Homo sapiens: one gene and its partners. The protein of the gene in region 1 purifies or fractionates together with the protein of each later gene. This does not show direct contact. Each region holds a gene or a part of one and is shown on either strand. Other genes may lie near its edges. The genes, in order: TMIGD1, IDH2, HMGA2, CALD1, LAD1, ETFB and NDUFA5.

The links.
Region 2: the proteins of TMIGD1 (region 1) and IDH2 purify together in Homo sapiens (co-immunoprecipitation; one study listed by IntAct). This does not show direct contact.
Region 3: the proteins of TMIGD1 (region 1) and HMGA2 purify together in Homo sapiens (co-immunoprecipitation; one study listed by IntAct). This does not show direct contact.
Region 4: the proteins of TMIGD1 (region 1) and CALD1 purify together in Homo sapiens (co-immunoprecipitation; one study listed by IntAct). This does not show direct contact.
Region 5: the proteins of TMIGD1 (region 1) and LAD1 purify together in Homo sapiens (co-immunoprecipitation; one study listed by IntAct). This does not show direct contact.
Region 6: the proteins of TMIGD1 (region 1) and ETFB purify together in Homo sapiens (co-immunoprecipitation; one study listed by IntAct). This does not show direct contact.
Region 7: the proteins of TMIGD1 (region 1) and NDUFA5 purify together in Homo sapiens (co-immunoprecipitation; one study listed by IntAct). This does not show direct contact.

Annotation. Positions count from the first base shown.
Region 1 is NC_000017.11:30,331,008-30,335,895, forward strand, and holds the start of TMIGD1 (transmembrane and immunoglobulin domain-containing protein 1 isoform 1 precursor), read right to left. Parts: upstream 3,051-4,888; 5' UTR 2,993-3,050; intron 1,152-2,992; 5' UTR 1,127-1,151; coding exon 1,045-1,126; intron 1-1,044. UniProt on the Homo sapiens protein: May control cell-cell adhesion, cell migration and proliferation, cell morphology, and protects renal epithelial cells from oxidative cell injury to promote cell survival.
Region 2 is NC_000015.10:90,084,953-90,089,140, reverse strand, and holds part of IDH2 (isocitrate dehydrogenase [NADP], mitochondrial isoform 1 precursor), read left to right. Parts: intron 1-393; coding exon 394-554; intron 555-638; coding exon 639-782; intron 783-1,565; coding exon 1,566-1,702; intron 1,703-1,877; coding exon 1,878-2,029; intron 2,030-3,753; coding exon 3,754-3,866; intron 3,867-4,042; coding exon 4,043-4,140; intron 4,141-4,188. UniProt on the Homo sapiens protein: Plays a role in intermediary metabolism and energy production. It may tightly associate or interact with the pyruvate dehydrogenase complex.
Region 3 is NC_000012.12:65,827,106-65,831,293, forward strand, and holds part of HMGA2 (high mobility group protein HMGI-C), read left to right. Parts: intron 1-895; coding exon 896-982; intron 983-4,188.
Region 4 is NC_000007.14:134,943,422-134,947,609, forward strand, and holds part of CALD1 (caldesmon), read left to right. Parts: intron 1-4,086; coding exon 4,087-4,188. UniProt on the Homo sapiens protein: Actin- and myosin-binding protein implicated in the regulation of actomyosin interactions in smooth muscle and nonmuscle cells (could act as a bridge between myosin and actin filaments).
Region 5 is NC_000001.11:201,385,137-201,389,324, reverse strand, and holds part of LAD1 (ladinin-1), read left to right. Parts: intron 1-21; coding exon 22-165; intron 166-2,146; coding exon 2,147-2,990; intron 2,991-3,519; coding exon 3,520-3,624; intron 3,625-4,188. UniProt on the Homo sapiens protein: Anchoring filament protein which is a component of the basement membrane zone.
Region 6 is NC_000019.10:51,352,717-51,356,904, reverse strand, and holds part of ETFB (electron transfer flavoprotein subunit beta), read left to right. Parts: intron 1-2,062; exon of another isoform or gene 2,063-2,266; coding exon of another isoform or gene 2,267-2,596; coding exon 2,597-2,755; intron 2,756-3,614; coding exon 3,615-3,773; intron 3,774-4,188. UniProt on the Homo sapiens protein: Heterodimeric electron transfer flavoprotein that accepts electrons from several mitochondrial dehydrogenases, including acyl-CoA dehydrogenases, glutaryl-CoA and sarcosine dehydrogenase.
Region 7 is NC_000007.14:123,551,016-123,555,203, reverse strand, and holds part of NDUFA5 (NADH dehydrogenase [ubiquinone] 1 alpha subcomplex subunit 5), read left to right. Parts: exon of another isoform or gene 1-3,836; intron 3,837-4,188. UniProt on the Homo sapiens protein: Accessory subunit of the mitochondrial membrane respiratory chain NADH dehydrogenase (Complex I), that is believed not to be involved in catalysis. Complex I functions in the transfer of electrons from NADH to the respiratory chain.

The DNA of each region.
Region 1 (4,888 bases):
CATAGTGAAACCCTGTCTCTACTAAAAATACAAAAAAATTAGCCAGGCATGGTGGCGGGCTCCTGTAATCCCAGCTACTCGGGAGGCTGAGGCAGGAGAATCACTTGAACCTGGGAGATGAAGGTTGCAGTGAGCCAAGATCACACCACTGCACTCCAGCCTGGGCAACAAAGTGAGACTTCTTCTCAAAAAAGCAAAAAACTTAAGCTACTTGTAAAGATAATGGTATTGTTGTCTAGTATTTTATTAAAATATGGAATATTGAGTGGTTGTCATCTCTGGATGAAAGTATTTGGGGGGATTTGTACTTTTCTTTTTTTTTTTATAGATTGCCTGATTTATTTTACAATGACTATGCATTACTTTTAAAATCAGAAAAGAGTGGTAGGAGAGCAAATGCTGGAAAGATTTTCATGTGAAATGGTATGTTCAGATAAACAGATGATTATTTGGGGTAACATTAGTAATAAAATGCATTAAAATGTAGGAGGATTCTGGTGGTGGCTCTGGAGAGAATAGAATACTTCACCTTGTCTTGTAATAATAAAACCCTAAAAACAATATTTTTCCATTTGATTTTTTTTTTTTTTTTTTTGAGACGGAGTCTCGCCCTGTCGCCCAGGCTGGAGTACAGTGACGTAATCTCGGCTCACTCACTGCAAGCTCCACCTCCTGGGTTCACGCCATTCTCCTGCCTCAGCCACCCGAGTAGCTGGAACTACAGGCGCCTGCCAGCACACCAGGCTAATTTTTTGTATTTTTAGTAGAGATGGGGTTTCACCGTGTTAGCCAGGATGGTCTCGATCTCCTGACCTCATGATTCACCTGCCTCGGCCTCCCAAAGTGTTGGGATTACAGGCGTGAGCCACCCGCCTGGCCTCCATTTGATTTTTTATTGTTAGTTGACTCCTGTACTGTGAGCCATGCTAACTGTGTAGTCATTCCAATTTGGAATTTAAGGATATATCCAATGCCCATTGATCACTTTTCTTAATCGGAAATTTTTCTTTATCTAAAAAGAGGCCAAAAAGAACTTTAACTTACTTGTCATCTCACGTGGCAGAAATAAAATTACTAAGAGAAGAAATCTTCCCATTTGCATTATGACACTGCTCTTCCATGCCATCTTTAATGAGTTAAACTCAGATCTACTAAGGGAAAAATAGTGCAGTTGGTTTTGTACTTTGGTCTGCAATGAGTTCGTGAACCTTCCTTCTGTCTATTATGCATTTAAAGTGAAGTCCCAGATGAATCATCCCAGCTATAACGGTACTACTTCTAGCTTTTAATTAAACAACCCTGTCTGACTAAGTTCAAAGTACATTTAGTAGTAAGAAATTTTTTTTAAAAGCAACATAAAACCACAGGAAATAGGCTATGACAGATAGAGCAGCGTCAGGGTGCCCTGGGGAAGATGAAACCAGTCTTCCCTAGAGAAACTGATAGAATTTCATTTTAGCAGAATGAAACTTGTCTCATTCTCAGACAGTCCCTACTGAACAAAGTAATTCTTGTTCTGAAAGTTTTTCTTGGGTCATTTTTGTAAAGATGTTCTCTGATAATAGAGAGTTTTTGAGACTACTCCAAATCCCATAGATTCAAATGGTGTGTACGTAGAAAAGCCTCAATTGAAACATGGCCTCTAGTTTAAACCATGTTAATCTTGTCTTTCTCCCACTATTCTCTCTCTCTCTTCCCCTTGACCCAATGGACTAAAAATAATAAATAATAAAGGTGTCCTTTCTCCCTTCTTGCTTTTGCTTCAACTCTCCCTCTCCCTAAGATATTCTCCATTTCCATCTGGGAAAAAAACATATATTCATTACTTCCTTTCAAGAGTACTACTATAAATATAGCGAACCACATACGGAAAACTTTCTGCGCAACAGGGACTGTGCTAAACACTTTACATACATCATTTCAGTCACAATTAAGCCTCCTAACAACCCTCCTGAGGTCGTTTCTATAGATTTAAAGAGACTATGTAATTTGCCTGAGATCCCACAGACAGTAAATGTCAAGGTCGGGATTTGAACCCAGACTCCCAAGACCATGCTCTTAACCACCCTACTCTCAACCACCCTACTACCCAATCTACTGCCTAGATTAATATTCTTTTCCTTTAAGAAGCTGCTGTTAGGCTGGGTGCAGTGGCTCATGCCTGTAATCCCAGCACTTTAGGAGCTGAGGCAGGTGGATTACCTGAGGTCAGGAGTTTGAGACTAGCCTGACCAACATAGTGAAACCCCATCTCTACTAAAAATGCAAAAAAAAAAAAAAAAAATTAGCCAGGCATGGTGGCGAGCGCCTGTAATCCCAGCTACTCGGGAGGCTGAGGCAGGAGAATTGCTTGAACCTGGGAGGTGGAGGTTGCAGTGAGCCAAGATTATGCCACTGCACTCCAGCCTGGGCGACAGAGTGAGGCTCGGTCTCAAAAAATAAAAATAAAAAATAAAAAAATAAAAAAAAGCTGCTGTTAATCTTTTCCAGTCCCTGGCCACTGGGAGTTCTCTCCCCTTAACACCAGTATTAATTTACAAGAGCTGAAATATACCTATACCTACTCTACTCCTCCCCTGTCCCAGGCGTGCCCTGACAGGAGTAAGTTTCATTCATGCCAGGCTCACCCTTTCTGGCAGACAAGCCTGCATCAATCTTTTCGTAAGATGCAATTACTACTAATATTGATTCTTTTGTAATTTTAAATATTTGCCAAAAAGATTTCTATCACAGTGTTGTAACAGTGATTACTGCAGAATGTGGTCAATAGTAGAGTTTTCTCAAGCGCTCTGCACTACAAGTACTCAATAAAAACTGAGAGTGCAGGCTTCTTGCCAGACCTCACCCAGCCCTATTAAGGGGACAAATCTATGTCTTCTCTTTCCCTCCACTCCACCGAGACAGCAACTTTTCAAAATGTATTCCCCTCACTTGGCTTGTTTTTAATCTGTATGACTCTCTACTTTCTATATAAGACAGTCTTACCACTTACCTCTTGAGCTCTGAGAAGCTGACTTCCTTGGCCAACTGTTCCTCTGCCTGAAAACCCTAAATGCTTTCCCTGTTACAATCCTTTATAATACTTGAATTTGAACGCTTTATGACAGCAGGGTCAAATAAATAAGATAACTTGGGTTCAAAGTCTGTTTTTCTTTATGGAGTCTTAGAGAAGATAGTAATTGGGAAAGACATCTTCTTAAGATCTAAGTTTCTATGTCTACCTCGGTTACTAGGTGGGGCCGGATATTACTAACAGGGATGTGTTGTTCCAAGAAAGCTTGAACTTGTGCAAAAATCTGTAGCGCATCTCACTGAATATTGTCATATTTAAGTAAGATGGCTGCGTTTTGATCATCTAGCCTGGGGATTGTGAAGGGACGAGTCCAAAGAGAAGTTTGACTTTAACAGAGGTCAAAACATTGGAAGATTCTACACAACTTAAATAATGCTGGAAAAGTCTTAGTTACCACTAGTAACCCAAGCCCAGTGCATAAGCTGTACCAAGCCAGGCATGGCAGGGAGCCGTTTTTTTGTTGTTGTTGTTTGTTTTGTTTTTTGAGGCAGGGTTTCACTCTGTCACCCAGATTGGAATGCAATGGCACAATTGTGGCTGACTGAACCTCTGCTCCCAGCCTCCCAAGGAGCTAGGACTACTGGCGTGAGTCACCATGCCCAGCTAAACTTTGTTAATATATATATTTTTGGTAGAGATGAAATTTCGCCATGTTTCCTAGGCTGGTCTCTAACTCCCGGCCTTAAGCAATCTGCCCACCTTGGCCTAGGGAACAGTTTTATCCTCTTGAGGCTCTCACCTGATTGGGAGATCCTTGCATTACACTATGTTTATGGTATTGTTAACGATGCAAATTTTATCTGCCAAGTACTATTGTTCCCATTTACACAAAAATATAACAGAAGAATATTTATAGTTATCTACACATTTTAACACACTGCTGAAGCACACCAGCAATCTGCCTCTTACTAGCTATGTAACTTTGAAAAGTTATTTAACCTCCATGAGCCTCAGGATCTTCATCAATACAATGGAAATAGTAATAGTACCCTCCCTACGGAGTCACTGTGAGGATTAAATGAAATGAAGCATGTGAATCTGCCGCACAGTAAGCTCTTGGTAAACAGTAGCTCTTATTACTATTATTATTAATATAGGCTGAGCAGGGCATCCTAAATCAACACAACCTCACTATAGCATTGTTCAAGCAAAAATCAGAGCTAAGAGCAGCTCCTGTTGGCTGGGTTGCAAGCACCACCCAAACAGGTTTTGAGTTTGCCTCTCCAGGGATCCAAGATTGTCATTTTAAAATGAATTTAGCAATGGAGTGATGTTTTGGTTCTTGGTGCCTCCAAAATAGACCCTGAGACAGAGCTTTGAGTGCCAATAGTTTATTTAAAGGTGATCTCGGCCGGGCACGGTGAGTGGCTCACTCCCTTAATCCCAGCACTTTGGGAGGCCGAGGAGGGTGGATCATTTGAGGTCAGGAGTTCGAGACCAGCCTGGCCAATGTGATGAAACCCCGTCTCTACTAAAAATAGAAAAATTAGCCAGGCATGGTGGCGGGCGCCTGTAATCCCAGCTACTTGGGAGGCTGAGGTGGAAGAATCCCTTGAGGCTGGGAGGTGGAGGTTGTGTTGAGCCAAGATTGGACCACTGCATTCCAATCTGGGCGAGAGAGTGAGACCCTTCCTCAAAAAAAAAAAAAAAAAAAAGTGATCTCAGGAAGCATAGTAAGGAAGTAAGATAGGGAAGGGAGGAAACTAGTAAAGAATGTGTTAAAGATTACTACCGTGAGCAACTATATCCCTGGAGCTTTGGACAAGTTGTATTCTGTGCAGCATACCTCAGAATCAACTACTGATAGGGAAGGAA
Region 2 (4,188 bases), on another chromosome or scaffold:
GGAGGTCGAGACCAGCCTGACCAACATGGAGAAACCCCATCTCTCCTAAAAATACAAAATTAGCTTGGTGTGGTGTCACATGCCTGTAATTCCAGCTGCTCGGGAGGCTGAGGCAGGAGAACCGCTTGAACCCAGGAGGCAGAGGTTGTGGTGAGCCGAGATCGCGCCATTGCACTCCAGCCTGGGCAATAGGAGCAAAACTCTGTCTCAAAAAAAAAAAAAAAAAAAAAAAAATTGGCAGACTCCAGAGCCCACACATTTGCACTCTAGACTCTACTGCCTTCCTCATGAAGAATTTTAGGACCCCCGTCTGGCTGTGTTGTTGCTTGGGGTTCAAATTCTGGTTGAAAGATGGCGGCTGCAGTGGGACCACTATTATCTCTGTCCTCACAGAGTTCAAGCTGAAGAAGATGTGGAAAAGTCCCAATGGAACTATCCGGAACATCCTGGGGGGGACTGTCTTCCGGGAGCCCATCATCTGCAAAAACATCCCACGCCTAGTCCCTGGCTGGACCAAGCCCATCACCATTGGCAGGCACGCCCATGGCGACCAGGTAGGCCAGGGTGGAGAGGGGATCCACTGACCTGGGCACCCCCCGACTGGAGCTCCTCGCCTAGCCATCCTCTTGTCTCTGCAGTACAAGGCCACAGACTTTGTGGCAGACCGGGCCGGCACTTTCAAAATGGTCTTCACCCCAAAAGATGGCAGTGGTGTCAAGGAGTGGGAAGTGTACAACTTCCCCGCAGGCGGCGTGGGCATGGGCATGTACAACACCGACGAGGTGAGGCTGGCTTGGGCATCCTGGGCCCCTCCTCTCCCAGCTTGTCTCTTCATCTCTGTCTCGTGGCTTTCCTTTCTTCTGTAATGGCCTCATTCTTAGGCCACAAAGAGGCAGAAATGGCCACCAGGGCTGGGCATGGTGGCTGACACTTGTAATCCCGGCATTTTGGGAGGCCAAGGCAGGATTGCTTGAGACCAGAAGTTTGAGACCAGCCTGGGCAACAGTGAGACCCCATCTCTTGAAACAAAAAGAAAAGAAAAGAAAAGAAAAGAAATGGCCACGAGCAGCTCCAGGCGTACTCCTGCCTGCTTGGCTACCCTATCAGAAGAGAATGCCTCTTTATCCCCAGTTCCAGCTCCAATGCCAGGCTGAGTCACATGACCACCTCTGAGCCAATCACAGAGGCCCTGGGGAGAAAGGCTTCTGATTGGATAAGCCAGGGACACACTGTCAACCCCAGCGCTAGGCCTGGGAATTAGCCCTGCCCCAGCCACATGTAGTCTAAGGCGGTGCTTTCCAAAAAAAAGTTGTTTCCAAAAAAAAAAAAAAAAAGGCGGTGTTTTCCAAAAAAAAAAAAAAGGCGGTGTTTTACAAAGCAAAGTTGAGAGGGAGAGGCTGGGCCAGCAGAAACATCGTGTGCACTGCACGGAGGCTGGTGTTAAACAGTCGCGTGGGCGGCGGGGTACCGTTCCTGGAGAGCTGGGCCTTGCCCTGGGAGGTGGGAGGTTGCCGGCAATCGCCAGGCTAGGGCACCACGCCAGGGCCCTGTCTCTCCCCCTGCAGTCCATCTCAGGTTTTGCGCACAGCTGCTTCCAGTATGCCATCCAGAAGAAATGGCCGCTGTACATGAGCACCAAGAACACCATACTGAAAGCCTACGATGGGCGTTTCAAGGACATCTTCCAGGAGATCTTTGACAAGTAAAGCCTCATCCATGTACTCTGTGGCCTTTCTTCCCTTCCCCCCATGCTGTTCCCATCCTACCCTGGGAAGGTCGCTATTAGAGTGCATTTGGCTCAGCTCCGAGGCTCAGGGAGGGATCCCCAACCTGTCAGCCTTCTGCCCTCTCCCCATAACAGACCTTTTTACTCCCAGGCACTATAAGACCGACTTCGACAAGAATAAGATCTGGTATGAGCACCGGCTCATTGATGACATGGTGGCTCAGGTCCTCAAGTCTTCGGGTGGCTTTGTGTGGGCCTGCAAGAACTATGACGGAGATGTGCAGTCAGACATCCTGGCCCAGGGTACGCTGGGAGGACGCTGCTCCCTGTGGGGGTGGACTGTTGGTCTTCTCTGGCTGGAGGGATTTTCAGACCCTTTTGGTAGAAAACTCTAGTGGAGCAGGACTCATTGCAGGGTCCTCTGTGGACAGCAGGGGGCAGGAGCTCCCTGGCATCTGAGTGAGAGAGGATCACAAATTAGGTTTGGACTGGTGTATGACTGAGGCTGCTCTTAGAGAGAAAGGAGGGCACAGGAATTCCAGGGCTAGGTTGACAGCCCTAAGGTTGCTCCAGTCCATGATGGAGCCTCATGACTCTTTGGTTCCAGTAGGAAAATGGGATCAAGCGGGACTGGAGGTTCTTTAAACTACAGCGAATGCATTTTGCATAGTGAACCTAATGGATGGAAGAGAATGTTGGGGAAGCCTGCAAACCCCCAAGCCCTAGGGTGTCCTAAAAGACAAATCAGATTGCAGTAAAAAGTATAGGTGATGAGGTCAGGAGTTTGAGACCAGCGTGGCCAACATGACGAAACCCCGTCTCTACTAAAAATGCAAAAAAATTTAGCTGGGCATGGAGGCGGGCACAGTCATGGACACCTGTAATCCCAGCTACTTGAGAGGCTGAGGCAGGAGAATCTCTTGAACCCAGGAGGTGGAGGTTGCAGTGAGCCGAGATTGCGCCATTGCACTCCAGCCTGGGCAACAAGGGTGAAACTCCGTCTCCAAAAAAAATAAAAAATAAAAAATAAAGTATAGGTGAGACCATTAGAGAAGAACAGCGAGAAATGGGCCAATTGTGTTGGGAACAAGAGCAGGAAAGGTGGTAGGTGTGGGAAACAGGCAGGACATAGAGAGTGAAAGAGAAACCTAAGCTTACCAGGGCAGCTCCTGGTATGGGGAAAAGGGAAGCCCAGGACGGGTTCTGATGAAAAGCAGAGTCTTGTTACTTTGTGTAAACCTTTGGCTTTACTTTGGAAAGTTCAGTGGGGATCCTCTCACCGAACAATTCCCATCTAGGATAGAAGGATGAAACGCCATAGCAGATGAGGCAGAGGCATGAAAATGAACCTTAAGTGTCTAAGGAATGGTGTGAAGGTGCAGGTAAAATGGAGAAGGGATTGCTTACAGCCAAAATTCTTAGAATTCATAGACAAAGCATTTTCCTGTAGATGTTGTCCATGTTTTCTTTCTTCAATCCTTATTTTGGTGTCATGGGGGTGCCTTTGAAGCCCTGGAGTCCTTGACAATAGAAAAGCTTGCTGGAGTTGACATGTGGATTTGGGAGCATTCAGAAATTAATCAAAAAGCTTGAAAGTGGCCTAAGAGAGTAGCTGCAAAAGTGATTGTTGGGAAATAGCTGACCACAGCTTTATTGTTTTCCTTGAATGTGCCTCCGGGTCACGAGCCAGGCTGGGTGGCAGGCTGTGGGGGACCACAGGACTCTGTGGCCTCTTGGGCCCTGTGGGCCACAGGCTGTGGGGCGCCTGGAGCTGGTGACACAGATGGATGTTAATGTGCTGGTGATAGCCACCCTCCAGTGCCCTCCAGCCCTGTGCTGGGCCCTGGAGACCCACAGGAGGGTGAAGAGACCTGGAACAGTCCCTGTCCTCCCAGTTGCAGCTGGGGGAGGCTGAGTAGAGCCACGAACTATGGCAGCTACAATATTGGGTTGTAGAGGGCAGCAGGGCTCAGCTGGGTGGCCCCAGGAGAGGCGAGGCCCTGAGAGAAAGGCTTTCTACCCTCCAGGCTTTGGCTCCCTTGGCCTGATGACGTCCGTCCTGGTCTGCCCTGATGGGAAGACGATTGAGGCTGAGGCCGCTCATGGGACCGTCACCCGCCACTATCGGGAGCACCAGAAGGTGAGTGCAGGGCATGGGGCCTCACAATGCCCCTCTACCCCAGGGGCCTAAAGCCCACTGGGCTGAGGGCTGGAAGGACGAGCCTGACCCACCAGCCCAGGGGCGGGCAGCTGTATCTGGGCAGCCTCCTCACTAGCTGGCTCGGCTCTTGATCTCCCTGCAACCCCCGTCCCCAGGGCCGGCCCACCAGCACCAACCCCATCGCCAGCATCTTTGCCTGGACACGTGGCCTGGAGCACCGGGGGAAGCTGGATGGGAACCAAGACCTCATCAGGTGAGCATGGAGGGAGAGGCCGGAGCTGCCCAGGACAGGCTCTGGGTC
Region 3 (4,188 bases), on another chromosome or scaffold:
TTAACCACTTGAGTATTTACTACTTGGCATAGGAGCCATTTAAAGTTTTGCTAAACCAAGTGATTGCTTCCATTTCTCATTCCCAGACACTCCATTCCTCCTCGCTTTTACCTCCTTTTAGTTTTCTCCACTCCACCCCCATAAGAGTTTTCTCAAAAGAAAGTTTTGAAGAAAATATGTTTATTTTTATCAAAAGATATTTAAATTTAGACTGGAGGCCATGCCTGCATCTCCAAAAGGAAGTGGAGAATTGAAGCAATTAACTAGATGATTCAAGCAAAACCTCCCACCATAGATTTACTATAATTATTTGGAAATTTTAGGGGGAATGGAGTTATTTTGAACTGAAGAACTTGAATAATTGCTCCAGTATTTCACTCAAAATGTGTCAGTTGAATCATAATCCACCTAGAAGGCAGGTATACAAAGATGATTAAAGGCCACCTTTTCAATATGGAAGATTGTTGAAATATCTGTGATGGTAGCTTCGTATTTCTGTTGTTTGAAATGCTAGTATAATGCAGAGTGGTGTTCGTTTAAAATGCCTATTATTCCTATGAGTTGCCAAATGCATAGCCCTGTAAACTTTACACCTTAAAAGTATATGACTTTCTTTCTAGAACATGCCTCTTCAGTCTTTGTTACCATTTTAGGTTTGAAGTAGAATCTAGTTTTCATATACAAAATAGAGTTTCCTCTTTGAACCCTTGCATTAAAAGTATAGTTATTTCCCCTTTCTGTAAACTCTGTACCATCATCATCCATTTATGCTTGAACTGAACGTGTTCCAACAGCTCTTTTGAGCAGCACATGCAGAAAATATAGCTAAAGAGTCAGGGTCAATTTCTTTCAGACATTCTTGCCACAACAGCATTTTTTTTTCCCTCACAATTAGGAACCAACCGGTGAGCCCTCTCCTAAGAGACCCAGGGGAAGACCCAAAGGCAGCAAAAACAAGAGTCCCTCTAAAGCAGCTCAAAAGGTGAGATTTCTCAAGTCAAGCTCTCCTAACTTCATCAATGACTGACTACAGGAGCCTGCCTGTAACTTTCCCATTCTAACTCCGCAGCCAGGAATTTGTCCCAACTGGGTAACACAAGACTCATTTCTTACATTTAACATTAGTTAGATGCGAGTTAACCTTTTTTGTAAGCAGATGCTCAGCATAAAAAGTTTATGAAGATACTTAACAGTGTTGTTTTTAAACAAACAGCCACCAAATAATTTGAACCTTAAAACGGGTAGAAGTGAGGAAGGAAGGGGTTGCGGGGGGGGCGGGATGAAAATGACACAATTAATATTTGCACCAGTTGTAAATAGTTAAAAACAAATCAAAACTATAGATTTTGCCTGGTGGTAAAGTTTTTGCAATTTCCTCTGAAAAATGATAAAGATTGATTTACTTTGTGCTTATTACATGGCTACTGCAAACCAAATCCCCCTATTAAAGTACTTTGCCAAATAGACGATAATTAGAAGTAAATCTAGTTGTGGGATAGTGGAAAAATTCCATGAATTTTGCAGCTTTAATTGTGATAATAAAGTATACTGTTTGTTTTACAATAAACCTGCAGTATAGTATATCATAATCTCAAAATGCCTTTTCATCAAGTGACATAGAAATGTCTGAATTGGACAATGAGACTTTTTAAAACAAGTATTTGGCTCATTTAATATCTCTTTTTGGGCAGAATGGAACCCAGTTAAGTGTAATATTCAGTGTTTATCTTAATAAGTTTAAACTTGCAGTTTAAGATAACTTCAGGTTGGCTGTGTTTAAGCTAGCAAAGAGGAACTATGTCAGGGTTAATGCATGTATAGAGAAGTACCAGTCACTTTTTTGACTTTATAAATAAATTGGAAAAAAAAGTTTCTGCGTTGTATTTGTAGGTTTGTGTAGTAATTGAGAACAAAGTTTCAAAAATCAGAACTAAATTTGGATATACCTTTTCACCGGTTTTGGGTACTCCATGTACAGTATTTGTTAGAAAGGACTATATGCTCATCGTTTGGGGATTAATGTTTTGTGTGATTTTCTTTGTGACTGTGGGTACTAACTGTAATGTATGTAAACTGCCATAGCAACTAATGGTACATATAAAGTTATTTAGGAAGTTACTCTGAGTTCTTGTCTGTTTTAACAGTTTTGAACAGAGTTGAGGAGCATATTTTTAATATATTTAAATTTAATTGCTTCTTAGAGTTTAGATTTAATTGTTTCTTATTTAATCAATAAACTTTAAAATAGCTCTAAGTAACCTTGTTATTTAAAAATGGCAATATATAATCTGGTATTTTTAATATGAATACTTTACATTTGTTTCATTTTATCTCATTTATAAATTAACTAAAATGGACTGATTTTACCAAGGAGTTTTTCTATGTTGTGTAAGTGTGGAGTTTACCTAATTTACTTTTATTCTAAGGAGATGCACAAATGAATATCTTGTTAGATAGCTGACACGCATTTAAGCTGTGGTATAATTCCTCTGAAAAACACATCATGATAATATCTCCTAGGAAGAAATCTTTAAATTTCACCATAAATAAGTAATTTGAAATTTAATACTAAAAAGGAAAATGAATTGTCTCCCATATTTTACTATATTTCATGTTTTTTGGATGAATAGATAGAAACGCTCCCATCGCCTCCGCTTCATTTTAAAAAGCTTACCACTGACTAACAAAATTTGTATTGAGAAAAGGGAAGCTGAAGCTAGTGCCTAGTTTACCACCTAAAGCAAAATTTTTAAAGTTGATCTATTCCTAAGTAAGGGTTGATTTATTTTTAGTGACTCTAGTGACAGGCATTTGTAAATGACCCCCCTACGCCGCTCATCTTTCTGAAAATTCTTCATGTGTATGCATACATTATTCCAATTTCCAAAACAGAAGTAGGCTTTCTTTTTTCTAAAGATTCCTTCTCCAGAATCTTTCATTCTTTCAGACACAATTATTTCCTACAATGGTGTTATAAAAATCCCTCTTGTAATAAAAATGAATAAATACATTTGCCCATAACATGACTTATTTTTCTTCAGTTTTATAAATTACGCTTCATCTGGAGAAGAGAATACCTTGCAAAATAATGAATGACATTGATGAATCGTTCATGGCATGTGTAAACTTAAGGTATTTTCACTTTCAAATCAGAATTTGTTGAGTATGTTACTATTCTATATAAATATGATTTTCAAACATTTGTTTATTAAGCATATATTGTGTTCTAACAAAACATATATGTTCGTCAGGATTTTGCAATGCAAATCTTTTTAGAAAAAGTTATATTGTTCATAACATGTAAGATAAACATACCCTGTGAGACTGACCAGAATAGATATGAGAAGTCTTCTATGAGTAACAAAGTGAGTGTTTTCCTGTAAACTGAGACCCATCACAATGCAAAATACATTGCAAAGACTGGTAAGTATATGAGAAGAAAGAAGCCTAAAATTAGAGGAGCTGCAATGCACACTGAAATCCTGATGGTTATATACTTAAAATTTCTTGCTGCTTGGAGTTTCTTGACTTACAAAGTTTATATTTGGATTCAGTAATTGGCCTTGGGACATTTGAAAACAAAGCTGTTGATTTGAAAATTAACAGTGTGAAACTGGACAATGCATGCAGAATGTTGCAAGACCAAGTGAATGACTACTAAATTAGCCATCACTTCAATTTCAAACCATATTCAGTAGAAAATTGATTTATATAATATGTAAAACAAAGACATTTATAAGAACACAATTTCCTATGCTTGGAACTTTTGGAAGAGAAGATAATTATTCTTCAATCTACTTAATATTCCATTAAAACTAATTACTATGCATGACCATTGTGTAATGATTCTAGTCATTCCTCAGAACTCCAATCTGAGTGCTCAAAATTTGTCCCTGAATCAGTTTCATATAGTTACCTGAATAAAAGAAATCAGAAGTTAAAGTTTTCCTGAATAATTCATTTGTCCATGTGTGTATACGTCTGTGTGAGCATATCTTTACCCTTTTATTTATTTTTTAGTCTGAGGTACACCTATGACCAGTTATGTCTTAACTTCCTTTTTTGTTTTGTTTTGCTTTGCTTTGCTTTCCTGGTTGTGGTGGATGGAAATCTTTGCATTTTTACAGTTCCCAGATGGTTAGAGAGAAAGAAGTTATAATCTCCTTTAGTTTAGGGTTTTGTTGTACT
Region 4 (4,188 bases), on another chromosome or scaffold:
AGCATAGCTGCTTATGTGTGATTTAATTACTGTTCCCTTTGATATCTGCATTTTCTTGTAACTCGTTTTCTCTAAAACATGACATAAAAATCTCAATTCAATGAGCAAGATATAGCGATGCAAATTATACCAAGGGTTTTATAGAAAGTGCAAAATGGTTTTTTGATTTTTTATTTTTGAAGGTAGAAATTAAAAGATTTTTTCCGATTATAGAAAAAAATACTCATTATAAAAACGCTCAGAAAATAGAAGAATAAAAATAAGCACCCACCACCCAAAGATAACTAGCAGTAACACTTTTTCCAGATATTTATCTATGTATATAATATTCAAGATAAATGCACACACGTGTGTATATTTATATGTAGTATATACGTGTGTGAGTATACTTATAATTTTACATTGATTCTTGCACTGTGCATAAGAATGTGTCATAGCTTGCTTTCTATGCCAATAAATATAAGCCTATAATTAATGATATTAGATTCTACTGGATGGATGTATTAGGACTTATTTAGCCAGTCCCTAATGACGGACATTTTGATTGTCCAAAATGAAGACTGAGTGACACCTAGTGGAATCCATAGATGTTTCTATAGGCATGTGTTTTGCCGGTCCAGTTCCTGTACAGTAATATGATGAACACAAAGAGAGAGCAAACTCATTTTTGGAAGGAAAGACCCTAAATTGACTGAGAGAGGAGTCACAGGCCTGTGAACCTAGAAGACCCTGAAAGAGCCTTTGACAGCAAGGTTTTGAGGGACCCTTTAACCTTGTTTGAGTTCAAAATAAAAGTTTACCTGTAACTGGCATGAGCCTAGACCAATAGTTCTAAATTTTTTAACCTAAGCCCTTAGTAAGAAATAAATTTTACATAATGACCCAGTACACACCTGTATATATTTTTATAACTGAAACAAGTGTGTCAAGAAATGGTACTTTGTTTTGCTCTATGCAGTGCACTCTGATATTTTCTGTTTTTTTTTTTTTTAAATGTTGATTACAATCTACTAAATTGATTTTCTGGTCTGCAGCTTGAAAATTATTGTTCTGGAGGACACAGGATATTCAGAACTACTTCAGTGTTTAAAAAGCATGATATATAATATACATATATATATTATAAAATCAATATTGCACAGTGTATTTCTTGAGCCCATTTCTTGTTTTATTCTTCCTCTTGTTTCACAGCTAGAAACACTGTACCATTCTTTACATGTAGTAAATGATGTTAGGGTGTGATAATTCCTTTGTTCCTTAGACAAAAGTGTCAGGAATAGGATATCTACGTTGACATCTAGTTAAGAATGACCTTACTACTTGCTAATAAGTATTTAAATGGCAAAGCTGTATCTCTGTCTCTTAAAGACTACTTATAACAAGGGCTTCAAGCCTAAATTAAGCCACTAAATTCTGCTTAGTGAAGTCCCAGGCAAATCCAACTTAGGTGAACTCTGTGTTAGTGAAAACTCTGCATTCTACTGAAGTTCTACTTTGAGTATCGACATGTTTTAAAATTATCAGTGTTCTAACTGTATCATACAGTAAATTTATTAAAGAAACTCAGGGGTCACAGTAGGTGCTAATGATATGTCTTCATCTTTTTATAGTTGTGTAAAATACTAAAAATACCAGTTCCAAAATAAAATTTTACCATAAGGACTCTTGGGATAGCATTCTGTCTGAAGTCTTAATATGTTCCCAATTCTGCAATGAAATCCCTGTGTATCCTCCTTAATCACAAAAGAAAATTCAACATAATTTCAATTTTAGTTCTTACTTACATAAAAACGTACCCATTTCTTCCTGTTTTATAAGCTGTTCTACCTGATGAAGCTTCTGCTTCATCTCAGGCACGGAAGGTAGCTAGACCTAGACTGTAGAAACTCTAGAGACAGAGGTAGGAAACGCTTCTCTCAGACTCTATCCTGAAGGTTTGAGGTAAGAGGTGGAGAGATGGAATAACATGTTCTATTTCAGTTTATTCATTGTTTCATAACAAAACGTATTTAATTTCAGGTATAATTATAGTTACAAGAAGAGTACAACTAATAGATAAGCATTAGAATCTGATCATGGCTCGACTGCTTTCTAGCTTCCAAAAGTTTGAGTATATTATTCTCTGTCTTACCTGTGGTTTCCTTGTTTGTAAGATGGGGATAATAAACCTAACCTGACATCTTCCCAGTTATTGTGACTGTTAAATGAAGTAGTGGATATGAAAAGGGTTTAGAGAGCATAAAGAATGACATGTAAGTAATAACCTTAACCACATCATACCAAGCTAATTTCATAATTTTAAGTCTGTATAAGGAGTATTCCAGTTGTATTGGGGTCAAAGAGCATAGAAAATTCACAAATTGAAGCCATAGGTTAATGCAGTCATTAAGGACTTTCCTGGAGCAGCTCTGTAAGAATAGACATAAATCACTGTGTTTAGCTCTTAATCAAGAGGCAATGGGTAATTTCGTCTGCCAGAGATCAGCTGCTAGAGTCAAGCTCAAGGCACAGTTGTGGACAGATGGATTTACTTCAATGCCTACCCTTAGTTACAGCCACTTTTTCCCATTCCCAGCGCCTGAACCTTTCTGTCTTCCCTCCTGATCCATTACTCCAGGCAGACCCAAGTTAACCAGTAACTTACGGGAAAGGACTAGTAAGGCCACTACAAGACTTTTGAACTCATTCACAAGTAACCTTTTGGACTACATGCCTCCCTTTCTAATAACAACTAATATTTATACTGTAGATGATATAGAAATTATAGTATATCAGTATGATATCAGTATGATATCATACTGATATAATACATAAGCCCATGCAACCCACTGAGGTAAATAGAATAAATAGTATTTACCCATTTTTCCATGTTGTAGCATGTATCTTCTTAAAAATTGTGGTAAAAACAAACATCACCTAAAATTTACCATCTTAAGCATTTTTAAAAGTACAGTTAAGTAGTGTGAGGCATATTCATATTGTTGTGCAACAGATCTCCAAAACTCTTTTCATCTTGCAAGACTGAAAGACTACACCCATTAAACAGCAACTCTTTATTTCCTGCTACCGCCCACCCTCTGCCTCTGGTAACTACAGTTCTATTTCTGTCTCTATGAATTTGACTACTTTAGATCCCTCATATAAGTGGAATCACACAATATTTGTATGATTTCCGTGATTGGCTTATTTCACTTAGCATAGTATCTTCAAGGTTTATCCATGTTGTAACAGGTAACAAGATCTCCTTCCTTTTTTTTTTTTTTCTCTTTTTTTCTTACAGACAGAGTCTCGCTTTGTTGCCCAGGCTGGAGTGCAGTGGCACAATCTCGGCTCACTGCAACCCCTGCCTCCTGGGCTCAAGCAATTCTCCTGCCTCAGCCTCCAGAGTAGCTGGGACCACAGGCACACGCCGCCACGCCCGGCTAATTTTTTTTTTTTTGTATTTTAGTAGAGACAGGGTTTCACTGTGTTGCCCAGGCTGTCTTAAACTCCTGAGCTCAGGCAATCCGCCCGCCTCGGCCTCCCAAAGTGCTAGGATTACAGGCGTGAGCCACTGCACCCGGCCTCTCCTTCCTTTTTAAGGCTGAATAATATTCCATGGTATGGCTAGACCACCTTTTATTTATCCATTCCTGCTATGATGGACACTTGGGTTGCGTCCATCTCTTGGTCCTTGTAAATAATGCTGCTATGAACACGGGTATACAAATGTCTCTTCAAGACCTTGCTTTCCATTCTTTTAGAAGTGTATCAGAAGTGGGATTGCTGGATCACGTGGTAGTTCTCTTGTTGATTTTTTGAGGAACCTCCATACTGTTTCCATAGCAGCTGCACAACTTTACAATCCCATTTTACAGTGCATATTTGTCCCATTTTACAGCTGAGGAAACGAAGCACAAGTGGAAGAGCAGAGGCTCCTGGACTCTGTGATTCCGGGCAGACCCCTTCCCCAGCCTACCCCCTGGGCTAATGAGAGGCAGTGGGTATTTAGTCGGGGATGCAGAAGCCGCAGACCGACCTCCCCTTCCTCCAGGGAGACTACAGGCAAAAGCATGTAAACCCCTTTCCATTGCCCCCCAACCACAGCCGCCCTGGAGGGAGGGCCAGCGTGGACACCAAGGAGGCTGAGGGCGCCCCCCAGGTGGAAGCCGGCAAAAGGCTGGAGGAGCTTCGTCGTCGTCGCGGGGA
Region 5 (4,188 bases), on another chromosome or scaffold:
CCCTCTCCTCCCCTCCCCCAGCCTTGCCCGGCAGAGGACTCTGGAGGATGAGGAGGAACAGGAGCGCGAGCGCAGGCGGCGGCACCGCAACCTGAGCTCCACCACGGACGATGAGGCTCCCAGGCTCAGCCAGAATGGAGACCGGCAGGCCTCTGCTTCTGAGAGGTAGGTGCTCAGGTTTCTATCCTGATGGATGGGGATGGACTGGTTGCCTCAGACTAAGTGCAGCATATTCAGTCTGCTCAGGGAGTTGGGGCCCAGGAAATGAGGCTGAAGGGTGTGATGATGAATTTCCAGTTCCCCACCTTCCCCAGACTCAGTCCTGCCAGCTTCCATCCTCTTCATAACAATGCTTGCTACTATTTGTAGACCATCCATGAGCCAATACTGTGCTGGACATTTTATGGCCATAGCTCACGTAATCCACACAATGTCCCTGAGAGAGAGGTATTGTTAACCCATTTTACAGGTGGAGTAACAGGGTTGAAAAGTACTTAGGTGACTTGCTGAGGTCACGTACCTCAAGAGTGGCAGGGCCAGAATGTCCATCCAGATCTGTCAAGCTCCCGCCTCCTTCCATTATCCAGGCTGCCTTCTTCTAACCCTGACCCTCTATAATTTACTTCTTTTTTTTTTTTTTTTTGAGACGAAGTCTCGCTGTGTCGCTAGGCTGGAGTGCAGTGGCGCGATCTCAGCTCACTGCAAGCTCCGCCTCCTAGGTTCAAGCAATTCTTCTGCCTCAGCCTCCTGAGTAGCTGGGACTACAGGCACCCACCACCACAGCCAGCTAATTTTTGTATTTTTAGTAGAAATGGGGTTTTACCATGTTGGCCAGGATGGTCTCGATCTGTTGACCTCATGATCCACCTGCCTTGGCCTCCCAAAGTGCTGGGAATACAGGCATGAGCCACCGTGCCCAGCTGCCTTTTTTTTTTTTGAGATGGAGTCTTGCTCTGTCACCCCGGCTGGAGTGCAGTGGCGCAATCTTGGCTCACTGCAACCTCCGCCTCCCAGGTTCAAGCTATTTTGCCTCAGCCTCCCGAGTAGCTGAGATTAAAGGCACCTGCCACCATGCCCGGATAATTTTTGTATTTTTAGGAGAGATGGGGTTTCACCATGTTGGGCAGGCTGATCTTGAACTCCTGACCTCAGGTGATCCACCAGCCTCAACTTCCCAGTGCTGGGATTACAGGTGTGAGCCGCTGCACCGGCCTATAATTTACTTCTGAGGAGAAGAACCTTGGGGCTAGTTTTGCCATCTAGATTTTGGGATTATGAGGTGGGGGAAGAGCCTGGGGTTTACTGAATGCCACCTACATGCCAGGACTGTCCTGGGCACCCTCATGAGTCTCATTTTGCTTCCTAACAAGCCCAGTTTGTAGATGTGAAAACTGAGGCTCCGACAGTAAGTTAACTTGCCTGAAAGCACATGGAGAGCAGGGTGATGAGGAAGGAAAATAATCTCCTTTTGCTGGAGGCCAGGTGCTGTGGGTTATGGACAATCCTCTCATGTTACTTTTGTTTCTTTGGGTCCCCCAAGAAGGGAGAACAGGGCTGTGATGACCCTCTCCTCTCCTGTCCTCCCCTCCCCCAGCCTTGCCCGGCAGCAGACTCTGGAGGATGTCCAGAGCTGGGCTGCACCAGTACCTGTGGCTGTCACCTAGTCTTGGCTGCACCCACAAGACTGACAGGAGTGTGGAATGGTGCATCGGAAGACTTAGGTTCTGCTCCCAGCTCCCCCACGAATCAGCTGTGTGACCTTGACAAAATCCCTGGACATCTCTAGTCTTGATCTAAGATCTAAGGGGCAGAGACTGTGCTTATTCCTTTTGATCCCCAATGCCCCAAGCAGGCTCTGGCACATATTAAAGCAGTTATTCAGAGTCTGTTGACTACGTCTGAACATGGAGTCGTTGGACTTCATAGGAATTTATAAGCTTTTTAAAAAGCATAGTGTGCTTTGCTCAGATGATACCTTGGAAGTGCAATATATCGAGTGGATAAAGGTGGTGGTGAGCCGGGGAGGCCAGGGCCTGACATCCTCACCTCCTCCTTGGTGGCCCTGGCAGCATCTCCATTGGGTTAGGTATACTTAGGGTATCTTCCACCTCTATCCTCTGATTCTGTCTCCCATCTTCTGATTCAGACTACCGAGCGTGGAAGAAGCAGAGGTGCCCAAGCCACTGCCCCCAGCCTCCAAAGATGAGGACGAGGACATCCAGAGCATCCTCAGAACACGGCAGGAGCGGAGGCAGAGGCGGCAGGTGGTGGAGGCTGCACAGGCCCCCATCCAGGAGAGGCTGGAGGCAGAGGAGGGGAGGAACAGCTTGAGCCCTGTGCAGGCCACACAGAAACCCCTAGTCTCCAAGAAGGAACTGGAAATCCCACCTCGCCGGAGACTGAGTCGGGAACAGCGGGGCCCCTGGGCCCTGGAGGAGGAGAGCTTGGTGGGCAGGGAGCCAGAAGAGAGGAAGAAAGGGGTTCCAGAAAAGTCCCCAGTCTTGGAGAAGTCCTCCATGCCAAAGAAGACGGCACCTGAAAAGAGCCTGGTCTCCGATAAAACCTCCATCTCTGAGAAGGTGCTGGCCTCAGAGAAGACATCTCTATCAGAGAAGATAGCAGTGTCAGAGAAAAGAAACAGCTCAGAGAAGAAGTCTGTTCTAGAAAAAACCAGTGTCTCTGAGAAGTCGCTGGCCCCAGGGATGGCACTGGGCTCAGGAAGGAGGCTGGTGTCTGAGAAAGCTTCCATCTTTGAGAAGGCACTGGCCTCAGAGAAGAGCCCAACTGCAGATGCTAAGCCGGCCCCAAAGAGGGCCACAGCCTCAGAGCAGCCCCTGGCGCAGGAGCCGCCAGCCTCTGGGGGAAGCCCAGCCACCACCAAGGAGCAGAGAGGAAGGGCCCTCCCTGGGAAGAACCTGCCCTCTTTGGCAAAGCAGGGGGCTTCAGACCCTCCGACTGTGGCCTCCCGCCTCCCACCCGTCACACTCCAGGTTGGCAGTGTCCCGTCCCTCCCACCCTTCTACTCTGCCACCTGGCTGGCACTGCCGGCCAGTCCCACCCAGGTAGTCCCTGGTTCCCTGGCTGCCTCCATCCTCCTACCTGCAGGCTGGCCTTGGAAGTCTCTTCTTTCCCTGCCTGCTTCTAGCCATGGTCAGAGCAGGGAGGCTGAGATGGGGCAGGCTGCTGGAGCTTAAAGGGGCACCAGCTGTGGGGCAGGGAGCATCTGGTGCCCCCCACCATATCCTCATCCAGGGCCTGGGCTCCAGGACCCCGGCAGACTAGTGGGGAGCCTCAGATCCTTCTAGAAGCTCCCCTGGAAAGCTCTGCCTGGTGCCCTGGCCCCAAGGGACTTTGTCTGTGAGCCACTCCCACAGCAGATGAAGGAGGCAGGAGAGAAGGCACAGGGCTGTCTCATTCTCCCCTCTTCCTGCAGCTCCTGGGGTGAGCCATGGGGTTTATGGCTGCCCCGGCTTGATGGGCCCTAGACCTCTTATGTGACACTCCCCCTGCTCCATCCAGGTGAAAATCCCCAGCAAGGAGGAAGAGGCAGATATGTCCTCACCCACACAGCGAACCTACAGCAGCTCCCTCAAACGCTCCAGCCCCAGGACCATCTCCTTTCGGGTGAGAGCCCTGGGCACCCTGGTCTGCGAGCCACTGGAGGGCAAGTGGAGGAAGCCCGCATCCATTACAACATAGGAGCCGTAGGTTAGGTAGGAAGGTCCCCTGGATAGAGAGGAGCTTTGGATTCCCATGGGTGGCCCTGAACAAACAAGGTTGTATTCAGCAGAGGAGAACAGGTTAGTAACCTGGGGGGTAGGTGCCAGTAAGCATGAGCAGCCCCACCTAGTGGGCAAGGCCAGGGCTGCATGAAGACCGGACAGGCAGGGCTGGCCCTGGGCTGCAGGGAGGTCCACACCTGCCTTCATCAGTTCCTGGCCTCACCTAGGAGACTTGTCTAGGAGGGGAGGGGAGGAACAGAGAGCAGCAAGGCTCTCCTACTGCTCCCTGCCCTGCCACTCTCCCAATAGTACAAACTATGTGGATTGGGGAAATCTCGTCTTGCTTTGTCCTGGTGTTTATTCTTGGTTCTTCTGTTCACTGGGTCATTCACTCAATCATTGGGTATCATGCCTCTAATGTGTGCCAGGCCCTGGAGAGGTGGCCCAATAGCGACTGGTGCCCCCA
Region 6 (4,188 bases), on another chromosome or scaffold:
TGAGGATGCTGGCATTGAAGATAAAGCGATGCAGCCACAAGCCAGGGAGTGTCAGCAGAAGCTGGAGGAGGCAAGAAACGTGTTCCTCCCGGGGCCTGCAGACCCCTTGGTCTCACCCTGGTGACACTGACTTTGGACTTCTGGCCTCCAGAGCTGTAAGATTCTAAGCCACCAAATATATGGTGATTTGTTACGGCAGCCGAGAGAAACTAATAGGAGAGTGGTTAGTGGTTCACGCTACACCCTGGTCTACACCGGAAGCCTCTCTCCCTGGCACATGATGGTGTCCCCAGGATCCAGCTCAGAGCCAGGCACACAGTGGGGCCCAGGAGAGACAAAAATGATGTGCAGAAGCAAATGGGTGGGGTTTGCCACCCACCTCCCTTACCTCCCTTGTCTGTTTAGCAAAGAGGTCTTTCATGCTGGTGTTTTCCAAATTAGGTTGTGACCATGTGTGATCATGACATCCAGGCAGAGGGCTGGCATTTTTCCGAAAAAGGGTAGAAAATGTCAGAGTATGGTGTGTGTGTAGGCAGGGTCAGTATTGGTCACTGACCCTTACACTGCAGTGGCATTTGTGAAATAGGTCAGGGTCACTGGTCACGTTGTCTAAGGTGTTATCCGAGCTCGTTTCACAACCAAGAGAATTAAAGAGCATAGACCACCCAAAAGGTGAGGTTGGAGCGAAAGTTTAATAAGCAAAAGAAGAAAGCTCTCCACAGAGGAGAGGGAAGCCCAAGCGGGTTGCCATTTTTACAGTTGATTCCAAAAGCTTTTTTTTTAAAAAATTATTTATTTATTTATTTTTTATTATTATACTTTAAGTTTTAGGATACATGTGCACAACGTACAGGTTTGTTACATGTGTTTATATGTGCCATGTTGGTGTGCTGCACCCAGTAACTCGTCCTTTAGCATTAGGTATATCTCCTAATGCTATCCCTCCCCCCTCCCCCCACCCCACGACAGTCCCCGGTGTGTGATGTTCCCCTTCCTGTGTCCATGTGTTCTCATTGTTCAATTCCCACCTATGAGTGAGAACATGCGTTGTTTGGTTTTCTGTCCTTGCGATAGTTTGCTGAGAATGATGGTTTCCAGCTTCATCCATGTCCCTACAAAGGACATGAACTCATCATTGTTTATGGCTGCATAGTATTCCATGGTGTATATGTGCCACATTTTCTTAATCCAGTCTATCATTGTTGGACATTTGGGTTGGTTCCAAGTCTTTACTATTGTGAATAGTGCCGCAATAAACATATGTGTGCATGTGTCTTTATAGCAGCATGATTTATAATCCTTTGGGTATATACCCAGTAATAGGATGGCTGGGTCAAATGGTATTTCTAGTTCTAGATCCCTGAGGAATCACCACACCGACTTCCACAATGGTTGAACTAGTTTACAGTCCCACCAACAGTGTAAAAGTGTTCCTTTTTCTCCACATCCTCTCCAGCACCTGTTCTTTCCTGACTTTTTAATGATCGCCGTTCTAACTGGTGTGAGACGGTATCTCATTGTGATTTTGATTTGCATTTCTCTGATGGCCAGTGATGATGAGCATTTTTCATGTGTTTTTTGGCTGCATAAATGTCTTCTTTTGAGAAGTGTCTATTCATATCCTTCGCCCACTTTTTGATGGGGTTGTTTGTTTTTTTCTTGTACATTTGTTTGAGTTCATTGTAGATTCTGGATATTAGCCATTTGTCAGATGAGTAGGCTGCAAAAATTTTCTCCCATTCTGTAGGTTGCCTGTTCACTCTGATGGTTAAACTAAAGAGCTTCTGCACAGCAAAAGACACCAAAAGCTTTTATAAGAAACTCCTTTCATCTCTGTAGCTGTTTGAGTATCTTATCTGTAAAGCTATCTGCATAACTCTCCGTTATCTATGTAGTTGTGGGTACGTCTTTAGGCAAGCACAAAGCTCCGCTTCTCTTGTTTCTGTAACCGTGGGTTTGTTTTAGGTAAGCTCCGCCCCTCCCCGTGCAAGTTCCCACAGAGACCACCATGTACGTGCCTGAAAAGGGGAGGGAACTTTTCCTGGGAGCCTGTCAGTCACGCAAAGAACAAAAGGCTTCTGTGCTGGGCAGCTTGAGTTTTCCCCAGGCTGCTCTATTGTTGCCTGTAGCTGTGATTTTTCAGGCAGGCTGCTCCTCTGAGGACCACCCTTAACTGTCTACCTAACTGGTTTTTCCTTTTCTTCTCCTCATTTGTATTTATGTATCAGTGTATTATGTATTTATATACACTTGGAGATACAGTAAAATGTACCTCTCACTGTGGGTTACCATAAATACTGTAAATTTGAGAAACACTCTTTCAGGCCTGAGAGGAGCAGTGACAACAGTAGGGATGATCAAGTCAGATGTCCCTGGTACCCAGGAATGGCTGGATGAGAGAAGGAGACAGGGTGACCTGCCCCTGCCTACAAACTCTAACCCAGTTCTGTCCCTGGAGCTGTGTGACCCCGGACAAGGCCCTGCCCCTTTCCAGGCTGTCGTTGTCCTCATCCAGCCTGGGAGAGGGTTGGCGCTGAGGCCCCCACCTTCTTGCCTGTTTCCTCCTGACCCCACCCCTTCCCCTCCTGCTGGGCAGATCCGAGTGAAGCCTGACAGGACCGGTGTGGTCACGGATGGTGTGAAGCACTCCATGAACCCCTTCTGTGAGATCGCGGTGGAGGAGGCTGTGCGGCTCAAGGAGAAGAAGCTGGTGAAGGAGGTCATCGCCGTCAGCTGTGGGCCTGCACAGTGCCAGGTGATGAAGGTCTTGGGGAGGGGGCTGGACTCCTGGGTCTGACGGAGGAGGGGCTGGGACCTGGACTCCTGGGTCTGAGGGAGGAGGAGGCTGGAAGTCTGGACCCCTGGGTCTGAGGGAGGATGGGCTGATAGCCTGGATTCCTGGGTCTGAGGAAGAAGGGGATGGGGGCCTGGACTCCTGGGTCTGAGGAAGGAGGGGCTGGGGGCCTGGACTCTTGGGTCTGAGGAAGGAGGGGATGGGGCCCTGGACTCCTGGGTCTGAGGAAGAAGGGGATGGGGGCCTGGATTCCTGGGTCTGAGGAAGGAGGGGATGGGGCCCTGGACTCCTGGGTCTGAGGAAGGAGGGGCTGGGACCTGGACTCCTGGGTCTGAGGGAGGAGGAGGCTGGAAGTCTGGACCCCTGGGTCTGAGGGAGGATGGGCTGATAGCCTGGATTCCTGGGTCTGAGGAAGGAGGGGATGGGGGCCTGGACTCCTGGGTCTGAAGAAGGAGGGGATGGGGGCCCGGACTCCTGGGTCTGAGGAAGGAGGGGATGGGGGCCCGGACTCCTGGGTCTGAGGAAGGAGGGGATGGGGGCCCGGACTCCTGGGTCTGAGGAAGGAGGGGATGGGGGCCCGGACTCCTGGGTCTGAGGAAGGAGGGGATGGGGGCCCGGACTCCTGGGTCTGAGGAAGGAGGGGATGGGGGCCCGGACTCCTGGGTCTGAGGAAGGAGGGGATGGGGGCCTGGACTCCTGGGTCTGAGGAAGGAGGGGATGGGGCCCTGGACTCCTGGGTCTGAGGAAGGAGGGGCTGCGAGCCAGACTCCTAGGTCCCCCTGAGGATAGCAGCCAAGTCAAGCCCCTCTGTCCTTGGCAGGAGACGATTCGTACCGCCCTGGCCATGGGTGCAGACCGAGGTATCCACGTGGAGGTGCCCCCAGCAGAAGCAGAACGCTTGGGTCCCCTGCAGGTGGCTCGGGTCCTGGCCAAGCTGGCAGAGAAGGAGAAGGTGGACCTGGTGCTGCTGGGCAAACAGGTAGCTGTGGTCAGCCCTCCCTGTGCCCCCTTGCTCATCCCTGCTCGGGAGGAGGGTGGTGGAGATACGGGGTGAGACAGCAGCTGGCCAGGCCCAGGGCATTCACCACTCCAGGCTGAGCAGCTTGGGACTTTGCTGACCCTTCTGACAGAGAGTTTGAGCAGGGAGGACAGAGTCCCTCTGGGTGTTAGAAAGATCCTCTTGGGCCAGGCACGGTGGTTTACGCCTGTAATCTCAGCACTTTGGGAGGCCGAGGCCAGTGGATCACTTGAGGTCGAGAGTTTGAGATTAGCGTGGCCAACATGGTGAAACCCCATCTCTTCTAAAAATATAAAAATTAGCCGGGTGTGGTATCACCTGCCTGTAATCCCAGCTACTTGGGAGGCTGAGGCATGAGAATCACTGGAACCTGGGA
Region 7 (4,188 bases), on another chromosome or scaffold:
AATGCTTTAACTTGGAATGCAGAACCACTTATAATGTGACATTTTCTCTAACTTTATCTCCTATGCATTTCCTTATGTGTCCTGTACAGCAGTATATTCCAAAATCCCCAGTGGATGTCTGAAAACCACATATAGTACCAAACTGTATATATGCTATGTTTTGTTTCATACATACCTATAATAAAGTTTAATTTATGAATTAGGCACAATAAGAGATAAGCAGGCTGGACGTGCTGGCTCACGCCTGTAATCCCAGCACTTTGGGAGGCTGAGGCGGGTGGATTGCTTTAGCCCAGGAGTTTAAGACCAGCCTGGCCAACATGGCAAAACCCCGTCTCTACAAAAAATGTGGAAATTAATCAGGTGTGGTGGTGTGCACCTAGTCCCAGCTACTCGGGAGGCAGAGGCAGCAGGATTGCTTGAGCCCCAGAGGTTGAGGCTGCAGTGAGCTGTGATGATGCCATTACACTCTAGCCTGGGTGATGGAGTGAGACCCTGTCTCAAAAAAGAAAAAAAAAAAAAAGAGATAACAACTAATAAAATAGAACAATTATAACAATATACTGTAATAAAAGTTATGTGAATGTGGTCTCTTTGTCTCAAAATATCTTACTGTACTGTACCACCCTCTTGTGATGAAGAAAGGATAGAGTGGGATAGTGTGAGATTTCACCACACTACTTTGAACGGCACATAGTTTAAAACTTATAAATTGTTTATTTCTGGAATTTTTCATTTAATATTTTCTGACTGAGGTTGACTATTAGTAACTGAAACCTTGGAAAATGAAACCACGGATGGGTAAAGGGGAGCTACTGTATTCTAACCAAGTGCTGGCCATTAAAAACATAATGCGAGCCTTAAATGTAAGCCATATTTGTATGTAATTTAAAATTTTCTAGGACTAATTTTTTAATGAAGAAAAAGGTAAAATTTAATTATTTTATTTACCCTAACAAATCTAAAATATTGCCATTTCAGTATATAATAAAAAAATTAATGGTATTTTATAGTGTTTTTCTTCATACTAAATTTTCCAACTCTGGTATGTATTTATACTTATAACACATCTCAGTTTGGACTAGCCACATATCAAATGCTCAGTAGCCATATTTAGCTAGCATCTACTGTTTTAGACAGCACAGTTCAAGAAAATAGAACTATATACCACTTCCTTATGTTTGCTGTATTTTCTGCCATTCAGTTCTATGTATTCTGTATGTAATTGCCTTTTCCAATATCATTTAAGTTTCTATGATCTACCATCCCTCTGGGTCTATCTTAGATGCCACCTTTTTGAAATATGAATGCTTCTCTGGTCTCAGCTGAAGTGAATTCTTCTTCTGCTATAGAAAAATAATGCTAATACTTAGTGAAACTTAATGTGTACCAGGTACTGTTCTAAGTTGTATATACCCTATGAGGCAGTATTATTCCCATCTTACAGATGAGGGATGAAGGCACAGAGATGGAAATAACTTGTCCAGTGCACCTAAGGAGTGGAGCCAGTGTAAACTCAAGCAGTTATGTTCTGGTTAGCACACCCTTAACCGTTGCTAAGTATTATAATATCTCTTTGCTCTATGTATTTCCCCATCCCTGCCAAACACACACTTATTTTTTCTTTTTATCATTTTTATTATTTTTCCTCTTCTGTAGCTTACCCTGTGATATGGTTTAGCTCTGTCCCCATCCAAATCTCATCTTGAATTGTAGCTCCCATAATCCCCATGTGTCGTGGGAGAGGAACCTGGTGGGAGGTAATTGAATCATGGGGTGGGTTTTTCCCATGCTGTTCTTGTGATAGTGAAGAAGTCTCGTGAGATCTGATGGTTTTATAAAGGGCAGGTCCCCTGCACATGCTCTCTTGCTTCCTGCCATGTAAGACAAGCCTTTGCCCCTCTTTCATCTTCTGCCATGATTGTGAGGCCTCTCCAGCCATGTGGAACTGTAAGTTCATTAAACTTCTTTTCCTTTATAAATCACCCAGTCTCAGGTATGTCTCTATTAGCAGCATGAGAACAGATAAGTACACTCGATAGTACCTTAAACATATTGGAGTGTGATCCATGTCCAGTCTATCTTTATACGCAAACAGTGTGGTATTGTACATGGAAGTACTGAGTATATTTTTTCGCGGGTAGCGACTGTCTGGGGCTGGTGTTGCGTGGTGGTAAAAATAATTTACCAAGACATTTGAGGTAAAGAAAGGCAGATTTATTAGAGAAAGTATGAAAATACATTGCAAGAAAGCTATTGGCAAGTCAGCAAAAGAGGAGCTGAATGCAAGTAGCAAAGGCTTGCTGGGGATCTTAAAGGATGGTGCTTGTGCTGTGGGCTGAAGAGAGCTTTGTGCAGTACTGATAACACCTAGGTTGCAATGAGCTATCAGGCGAGGGTCTGATGATAGCTGGGCACAGGAAGATTGTGAGTTATTTGTGGAGGAGGACTGTGTGTCCTGGACCATGAAGAAAGGTGGACTTCTAGCTTATCTGCTTTTTTATTTTTGCTTTACCCTGTTCCCTTATTAGGACTGCACACAATTTTTTTTTTTTTTTTTTTTTTTTAGTTATACTTTAAGTTCTGGGGTACATGTGCAGAACGTGCAGGTTTGTTACATAGGTATACACGTGCCATGGTGGTTTGCCGCACCCATCAACCCGTCATCTACATTAGGTATTTCTCCTAATGCTATCCCTCCCCTGGCCCCCCACCCACTGACAGGCCCCAGTGTGTGATGTTCCCCTCCCTGTGTCCATGTGTTCTCATTGTTCAACTCTCACTTATGAGTGAGAACATGTGATGTTTGGTTTTCTGTTCTTGTGTTAGTTTGCTGAGAATGATGGTTTCCAGCTTCATCCATTTCCCTGCAAAGGATATGAGCTCATCCTTTTTTATGGCTGCATAGTATTCCATGTTGTATATGTGTCATATTTTCTTTATCCAGTCTATCACTGGGCATTTGGGTTGGTTCCAAGTCTTTGCTATTATGAATAGTGAGGACTGCACACATTTTTTTTTTTTAATTGAAAAAAAAGGTTGCTCTTTAGGAGAAGGGTTTGTATACTTGTAATTATTGAGACTTACTCCTGGAGTGATCATGTCTTGTTTGTTTCAACTGTTCTGGTTCATACCTGTGTTTTGGCGTAATGATTAATAGGTATCTTTTCACTGTTATAAGTGTCCAAGTTTGGATGATAAACTAAGTGTCCACCCTATTGATAACATTTTTTCTTTTATTCTATATTAATAGTCCCCTGTTCTCATCTGTATTTCTCTAGACACTGATACATTTTTGTCAGGAAAGATGAAAATTTAAAACCTGAATTTTAGATCATATTAAAACTTAATTAAAATGCTATATTAAAAACTAATATATGCATTATATATTTAAATTGGAGAGGATCAACTTCTTACTGATTTCTATACTGAAGTTTAAGTTCAGTGTGCTTCAGTACATGCTATGCATTGACTCAATTCTCTTGCTACTTTTTCGGTTGAGCCTTTTATGCAGACTTTATGTCGTAACTCATTCATAATCAGAAGCAAGAACACTGAAGTATTATGACCGTATTTAGTTAAATTTGATCATACAGATGTAATGATTATATGTGTTTATTTCTACAGAAATTCAAATAAGAAAAATTAAAAAAAAAAATTTGCAGTGCTTCGGACCTCACTTTGAAAAATACTGATTCAGGCTGGGTGGGCTCACGCCTGTAATCCCAGCACTTTGGGAGGCTGAGGTGGGCGGATCACCTGAAGTCAGGAGTTTGAGACCATCCTGGCCAACATGGCAAAACCCTGTCTCTACTAAAAATAGAAAAAATAGCCAGGTATGGTGGCGGGTACCTGTAATCCCAGCTACTTGGGAGGCTGAGGCAGGAGAATCACTTGACCCCAGGAGGTGGAGGTTGTAGTGAGCCAAGTTCACGCCATTGTACTCCAGCCTGGGCTATAAGAGCGAAACTCCGTTTCAAAAAAAAAAAAAAGAAAGAAAGAAAAATACTGATTTAGTAAATGACTTGATTTCCAAAAAGGTCATTAGCAATAAGTTGTTTTGTTTCTGACCAGTCTGGCCAACATGGCAAAACCCCGTCTCTACCAAAAATTAGCCAGGCGTGGTGGCGGCCACCTGTAATCCTAGCTACTGTGGAGGCAGAGGCAGGAGAATCGCTTGAACCTGGG